Linked DNA regions of Homo sapiens: region 2 is reported to be linked to region 1. The links are microRNA targets in miRTarBase. Many come from high-throughput screens and were not tested one by one. Region 1 holds a microRNA gene; the other region holds the end of a gene's coding sequence.
What was found. Region 1 holds the annotated microRNA hsa-miR-585-3p (UGGGCGUAUCUGUAUGCUA, at 2,053-2,071, opposite strand). A microRNA usually pairs through its seed, bases 2 to 8, with sites in the 3' UTR of a target mRNA and lowers its output. Matches are read on the target gene's strand: a 7mer-m8 pairs with bases 2 to 8, a 7mer-A1 pairs with bases 2 to 7 and ends in A, and an 8mer does both.

Region 1 (4,067 bases):
CCTTGCTTCTTTTCTTCCTACAACAAACTTTTATTAAACACCTACTCCAGACCTGGCACTATGCTGATGGCTAAGGATAGACAGTAAAACAATAGCAAAGAAGTTCCTTTTAAGGAACTTTTATTTCTTTGCTGAATGCCGCAGACAGATTCTAAGGTGGTCCCCAGTATCAACACCTTCCCCTCTCCTTGAGTGGGCAGAACCTAGAGACCTGCTTCTAACCCATGCAACACAAAAAAGGTGGTCGGATGTCACCTTTGTGACATGTTACATGGGACGGCAATGCCCGTCTTGCTATAGGACTCTTTCTCTTGCTGGCTGTGATGAAGCAGGTGGCCATGTTTGGGAGGCCCACATGCCAAGGAACTGGAGGCAGCCTCTACCCACAACCAACCAAGAATTCAAGACAACCAGCAGGAACCTGAAGCCTTCTAATAGACTGCAAGGAACTGAATTATCCCAATAACCTTGAGAGCTTGGAAGCAGGTCCTTCTCCAGTTGAGCCTTGAGATGAGATCACAACCTCAACCAAACCCTTGTGTGCAGCCTTATGAAACCCTGAAGCAGAGGGCCGAGACAAATGGAAGGTGCTGAATGCCTGTTGTTTTAAGCCACGAAGTTTGCTATCATTATATGACAATAAAAAACACAGGGGGAGATAGGCCACCACAAATAAACAAGGAGACTACAGACTGCAATATGGGCATAGCTAGGAAACAGTACAGGGTGAGGTGAAGAGAATAAAGATATGGTGAGAGGCAGTGAAGGCACTGCCCTCCCTAGGGTGTCCAGGAAGAACCTCTCTTAGAGAGTGAGATTTGGTCTGAGACTAGAAGGAAAAGAAGGATCCAGTTGAAGGACAGGCTGAAGGGAGACGTTTCCAGGTGGAAGAATGGAAACAAAAAGGTCCAGGTGACGGCAGCAGAGTGACACCAAATGGGATCACAGAGGCAGGTGGTGTCCAGGCTGTGAGGCATCTATGGGGCTGACAACATGCTTGGGGACTGGAACCATAAAAGGGGCCGAGCAAGGAAACCACCAATTTAAGAGCCCTCAGCCTCATTCCCCTGCCATCAATCCTGCCAGATTAATTTCCCCCAAATGTCAATTTCATTCCACAGCTCAATAAGAAGGGGGTTCTCATTACTGCCCTCAGCTTGCCTCATTTAATTCTTTCTTCTTTATAGCCACAGACATGTATTGAGCACCTATCAGATCCAGGAACTGTGCTAGGCACTTCATTGGCACATATGTTCCTGCTGTCTGTATGCTGGCCTCAGAAGCCCTCAAAGTCCTGCGTCCATTTAAATCCTACTGCTCTGTTATGGGCTGAATTGTGTGCCTCAAAAGATATATTGAAGTCCTAACCCCAGCTACCTATGAGTGTGATCGTATTTGAAAGTAGGGTCTTTGCAGATGTAATCAGGTTAAATTGAGGTCATTAGGGTGGACCCTAATCCAATAGGACTGGTGTCCTTATTAGAAGAGGAGACAGGGCTGAGCAAAGTGGCTCACACCTATAATCCCAGCACTTTGGGAGGCTGATGCAGAAGGATTACTTGAGGCCAGAAGGGAGTTTGAGACCAGCCTGGGCAACATAGCAAGACCCTATTTCTACAAAAGAGAAAACCAGCCAGGCATGGTGGTACTTGCCTATAGTCCCAGATACTCAGGAGGCTGAGGTGGCAGGATTGTTTAAGCCCAGGGGGGCAGAGGCTGCAGTGAGCTATGATTGCACTGCTCCAGCCAGAGTGACAGAGCAAGACCCTGTCTCTGAAAAATAATAAAAAGACGACGAGACAGACATGCAGGTATAGTGCCGTGTGACAACAGAGGCAGAGACTGGAGTGATGCAGTTACAAACCAAGGAATGCCAAGGGCTGCTGGCAAGCCCAGGAGCCAGGAAGGAGCAAGGAAGGGCCCTCCCCTGCAGATTTCAGAAGGAGCCTGGCCCTGATGACACCTCAATTTCAGATTGCGAGGCTCCAGAAGTCTGAAAGGATGATTGCTGTTGTAAGGCACCCAGTTTGTGGTACATTGTTACAGCAGCCCTAGCATACAGATACGCCCAACGTTCAGGCTTTCTCTGGGCGTATCTGTGTGCTAGGGCTGCCATAGCACAGACACCCCACACTCCCCCTGCAGCCTCCCCCAGCTGCTCCATCTCGTGCTGGCTTCTCCCTTCCCTGAACTTCTGAACTTCTGGATCATTTACCCTCTCTCTGCACAACTCATTTTGGTCTTTCATCACGTTGCCTTGCTGCTGCCTGTTTCCTGTGTGTCTGCCTTGTCTCCCAAAGGACCTTGAAGAGGATACTCCCCAACTTCCTCCAGACACCTTGGATGAAGGCCTCATGGAGACACTCAGAAAAATGTACACTAGGTTTCTCGGGGTGGAGAAACGGGGTTTTTTTTTTTTAAACATTTTACATTTTGCTTATCAGTATTATCAATGTTTTCTGGAGTAAACATGTATTATTCAATATACCTCCTACCTTCCAAAAAAAACCACTGAAAAAAGGAGTCCAGTTAACCTAAGACTCTCCCCATAGATAAAGTGACCATGCAGAGTTTAAGCCATTCAAGACTCTGGAATTTTAGCCATTTAGCCAAAGGAAGATGCTTTTTGGTTTTGGGGGTTGTTTTTTGAGACAGAGTCTCGCTCTGTCTCCCAGTCTGGAGTGTAGTGGTGCAATCTCGGCTCACTGCAACCTCCACCTCCTGGGTTCAAGGGATTCTCCTGCCTCAGCCTCCCGAGTAGCTGGGATTACATGCATGTACCACCATGCCTGGCTAATTTTAGTAGAGATAGGGTTTCACCATGTTGGCCAGGCTGGTCTCAAACTCCTGACCTCAAACCCACCTCAGCCTCTCAAAGTGCTGGAATTACAGGCGTGAGCCACCGTGCCTGGCCGGAAGATGCTTTTTGATGAGCCCAAGGGCAGACCTCTGAAACTGCTCACATCAGGCGGTCCTAATGGGTGTCTTCCTCTGTCTCCTCTCCCCAGTCCAAAGGACCTAATGCCACCCACCCAGCTACCCTGATGAAAGAGAGAAACAGCATGTGTTTGAAAACCATCAAATCACCTTCCTACCAGGTCAAGGAGAGCAGTGTTTCCCTTTGGGCCACCCTTATAGGGCTCCCATCTCATGCTTTACCTCTCCAGACTCACACCACAGGAGGCATTATTAACTATTCTGATTTTTGCACTTCGTTCTCATCTGTTACATAACCACATGCAAGTTTAAAAACATACACGCATTTGGGAAAGAAATGAGCTGAATTTGATTTTAAAAACTGGCTTCACACTACCTCAGTTGTTTGGGAACTAAGCCTCTCTGGGCTAAATTTTTGGCTTGGCAACACTCTCGCATATATAATTTTACACCTGCAAAAGCTTGCAGCCAGCCCTGTGCAGACAGCTACCTGCAGGGAGAAGAATGGGCCAAACAGAGGGGCAACCCGGGTGGTTGGATGTGGTCATGGTGAGGGCATGTAAAGAGGAGTATTGGGCATGGGGTCTCTTTTCCTTCATCCCTTGCACCAGGAGGACTCCCTGCCCCTGTTTTGCTCAGTTCAGCTCCATGCTCAAAAACAAACAAACAAACAAACAAACAAAACGTACAACTAGCTCTTTACTGGGAACAGCAGAGACGAACTTGCAAACTGGTAGCCCACCGGTGAGTTCTGGCCTGCAGACCTGCGTAGTCTGGTTCTCACTGTGATTTTCACATATGCAAATTAATTGCCAATTTGGGAGCATTTCAAATACAAATCTACAATTCTGGCTTGTCTCCAAAGGTCAGTCCATCAAATAACAATGGATTTTAGTGGCCATCATAAGCTGGTACTAAGAGGCAATTGCCCACTTTGCATAAGGTACATGCCTGCAATTCACCAGTCCACCTGATCCAATTCCCTCACTCAAGTTACCTGCTTAATCTTTTTTCGCATCAGAGTTTGAGATCCCTGCTGCCAAACATAGCGCTTAAGGTGGCAGGCCCTAGAATCAGATAGCCTGGGCTCAAATCTTAGCAAATAGAGCATGATTTTAGGCAGGTTATTT
Region 2 (4,067 bases), not on the chromosome of region 1:
TGCTGGCAAACATTTCAAGAAAATGACATTCTGGGTCCAAAATACCTGGATTCTCTGCCTAGTTTTGCCACTTGATGTACAATTTTGAGCGAAGTGCTCAAAGGCTCCTGTCTTCAGTTTCCTCAATTATAAACATGGATGCATGCTGACTTCCCAAAATTCTGTTGTGATCACCAAAATGAAATGTTTATGAAAGAACCTATCCCATAGTTTAATCAGCCAACCCAGCCCCAGCTTCCCCTGGATTCATGTGATATTCTAGATGACTAAATTGTAAGTCAGTCTAGACGTTGGCAACGTCCTTTGCAATGAATGGATAAAATGCGATGGGTTGATGGGTGGATAGAGGAACAGATGGACAGATCTATGAGAAAACAAGTAAGATGTTAATGTTAACTGTATAATCTAGGTGGTGGGAATATGGGTGTCTACTTTAAATTCCTTCAACTTTTCAGAATAGTTGAAAACTGTCACTAAAAGAATGTTGGGAAAAAAAATCATGCTATAAGCACATAGGGAGCATCTGTGTGTCTTCTGTGTCTGGAGCAAATGAACAACGCACAGAGGTGACTGTCCTTGCCACGCCGGGACTCTCAGAGTGGTGGTGGACCTGAGAGGGATACTGGTCCCCCGCCTTGCAAAGCTGGCTTCAGGAGGCGTTCTGCCAGCAACTGCGCCCTGTGGCCTCAGGAGCAACCCTGCCTCTGTCTTGCCATCCTTGTGCCTGCGGTGCTGCCTGTCTCTTCAGTGGCCTGACCAGTTTTCCCCCAAGTCCCTGCTCTCAGAGGTCCTCCTGCATCCTTACTGCCACCAGAGTCACCTGAGCCACTGCTTCAGGTCAGGCAGCTACCTGTGAGGGAGAGCTGGCCTCCTGGGGAAGCAAGGGCCACAGCCTGGGCTGGCCTCTTTCTCTGCAGCCCCCCTCTTGCCCAGCTGTCTGGCATGCCCGCCTTCCAGGGTCCACACAGCTGTGCCCCTCCCCAACCAGCAAAGAACCCAACTGTCAGGTTTCAGCTGCAGCACAACTGCCGCGAGTCGGCCACACTCTGTGAGGCTTTAATGTCTGCCTTACTCTCTGGGACCCACCATGCCTGTGTCCATCTCTGGGACTCTGTATACTCCTTGTTGTTTACATTTCCTGCTATGAGGCTGCTGGAAAGCAAAACCTGGGTTTTATTCATCTTTGTTCCTTTCCTAACTGGCGAAAGGAAGTGCTCAATGCTGATTAAATGATGAAAAACAAATTATCACGTCAACCCCAGAAGCTCTTTTATACTAAAAATGTGCACAGTTGTGTGTGTGTGTGTCTTTCTCCCCTACTACATGGGCCCCTCTGAGGCTGTGTTTAGGTCCTGCTTGCCGCGTTTGCTGTTAGTGTCTAATGCAGACTAAGCAGGCAGCACTGCCGCCTGACCTGAAGCGACAGAGATGAGATGCTCACAAGCCACCACCTGGCTGAGGGAAAATGACTGTGAAAGGAACTGTGAAGGAAGAAAAGCAACAGAAGTTGCTCAGCTCAATATTCTAGGTTCTGTAAACGGCAAGAGAGTGCTCTTCACAGAAGGGCAGGCCTCACAGGCCATCCAGGTCTGTTATGACTACCCCACGCCGCTGCTGTAGAGGAAAGGCAGCGGGCTGACCAAGGTCTAGTTAACCTGACCTTGTACAGACACTGGGAGTGTGTCCTGGAGCCTCACGGAGGGAGAGGGACGGACTCTTGAGAAACAGAGACAATTGCTCCACTGTGAGCACCTCACAGAGGAGCCAGGAAGGAAGTTCTGTGGGGACTGCAGGTGTGAAAATGGTTGGATCCTGGGGCCCAGCTTTCTGTCAGTGAGTGATTGTGCAAATCACTGTGGCTAACACCTCCTCCACTAGAGAGCCACATGTGTATGGGGCAACAGAAGACATGAACCAGCTCAGCCCCTGCTGATAACAGGCTTCTTTCTCAGTCACTCCGCAAGGCTTATGGCTAGCAGTCCACTGCACGTCCTGTTCGCGTGACTCCACAACACTTCCCTTGGGTTTGAGAGATCGTCTTTTGGGGTGCGTCTGGTGTTAACAGCAGGCTAAGTGAGGGCTTAACAGTGCCAGCAGCCCTGCCTCCCCCAAGTTGGTAGGTTTAGAAAACTTGGAGTCTTTAAGACTTTGCCTTTCCTCCTCCTCTTGAATTTGCCGCTTCTCACCACTTCATTTCTAGTCCAAGGCTACGGCCCCTTTGGTATGGAAGACCAGGCATTTGTTCTTAGCTGATCTCCTACCCAGTATTCCCTCATTTCAACCCCTCCTGCTTTGATGTCAGACTTTTGAAAACACCATTTTCCGGCCCCCAAACTACTAGTGTCTATTCCCTACCAATTCCTCGTTCTGTTGCCCTGCCTGGCTTTCAGGGCTATCTGCTTGGAGGCTGAGTTGGTCATGTCAGTCCTCAGCTCATGTCTACTTGGTTCTTTGTTCTTACTGACGGGGAATGGACGCCTCTAACTGCAACACGGTTCTGTCCAAAGCATCTCCCCAGCAACTGCTTCTACCTTGGCTCACAATTCTTTTTTTTTTTTTTTTTTTTTGAGACGGAGTCTTGCTCTGTCGCCCAGGCTGGAGTGCAGTGGCGCAATCTCGGCTTGCTGCAAGCTCCGCCTCCCGGGTTCACGCCATTCTCCTGCCTCAGCCTCCCGAGTAGCTGGGACTACAGGCGCCTGCCACTGTGCCCAGCTAATTTTTTGTATTTTTAGTAGAGACGGGGTTTCACCGTGGTCTCGATCTCCTGACCTCGTGATCCACCTGCCTCGGCCTCCCAAAGTGCTGGGATTACAGGTGTGAGCCACCGCACCTGGCCCACAATTCTTTATTCACTGCTTCTTTCTATAGAGTTCTAAACACAAGTCCAGTTCTCTCTCCTCTTGTCACATACTCTCTAAAATCAAGATTTGCATTCTTTTCCTGTATACTTTTCTTTTCTGACACAGGGTTCACCCAGGATGGAGTGCAGTGATACAATCATAGCTCATTGCAGCCTTGGACTCTGAGATTCAAGCGATCCTCTCCCCTCAGCCTCTCAAAGTGCTGGGATTATAGGCATGAGCCATTGTGTTGGGCCTGCTCAATTTTTAAAATCTACCAATATTGTCACATTGTTCACCTTCCCTTATGATCTAAGCACATGTAGCTTCTGTGCAGGCCCATGTAAATCCCCCTGACTGGCCAGCCCAGCCTCCATCTCCTGGATGAAGTTTCTCCAGCTCTCCAGCCTACACTGCTAGTCTGAACTGGTAACAGGGTCTGGGCCCCTTGCATGTGACATCAACTGTAGAACCAGGTCCCAGCTAGGAGTTTCTGAAGGGGCAGGCACAGAGGACTCTAATACTAAATTTATTTAACTGGTGGCTCTGCTTTCCATGGGAGGGAGTCCTGAGGCGAACCCTTTCCAGAGAGATGCTCATGTAACTGTGAAACTGCTCTGGACAGGCAGCAAGGAAAGGATGAGAACCCAAAGATGAACAATCTGGAATATGAAAAAGTTGTTTCCAAATAATCACATTCACTACCCTTGAGAGTAAAGGAGGTACTTGGAGTTTCTAATAAACGAGAGAGAGATTCCTAGGAGAATATATGTAACTTTCTAAATAATTTTTAATTCTAAATTTAAAAAAATACCTTCCAATAAGGAGCTTGGAAAAGAATACAAAATAATGGACCTTGAGGAACATAATATTCTAGAAACAAAAGGCAGCGCCTCCCTTGCTAGAGCTCACTGTATTAAACTCCAGGTACCTGACAAATTTAAGATCTGTATCCTGGCTGGAATCTAGCAGTCTCTTCAAAAATTAGTTCTTTGAGCTTTTCCTTAGGCAAGTCATCCAATTCCATGTCGAACTTGAATGGTGCTTCGGCGATGGGCTTTAAAAGAAAACAAAACATTTAACAGTCAAAGTTGTTATGGGTAAGGCAGTAATTTACTGATTCATAAAATGACCACTGCTCAGATTCTGAATTTACAACAGGACTGATGTCTCATAAAAACTTAAGAGTTGATGGCCGGGCGCGGTGGCTCACACCTGTAATCCCAG

Region 2: the mRNA of MAPK1 is a reported target of hsa-miR-585-3p. The part of its 3' UTR that is shown has no 7-base or 8-base seed match.

Annotation. Positions count from the first base shown.
Region 1 is chr5:169,261,564-169,265,630 of GRCh38, forward strand. MIR585 (microRNA 585) reads right to left here and starts at 2,131; the gene lies at 2,038-2,131. All of the region lies in intron 1 of SLIT3 (slit guidance ligand 3), which reads right to left.
Region 2 is chr22:21,765,424-21,769,490 of GRCh38, forward strand. MAPK1 (mitogen-activated protein kinase 1) reads right to left here. Exons shown (of 9, transcript NM_002745.5): 8 at 3,772-3,897. The coding sequence ends at 3,781. Among named protein-coding and RNA genes, the nearest start is that of YPEL1, 32 kb to the left of the region's middle. RefSeq lists an enhancer at 1,659-1,728.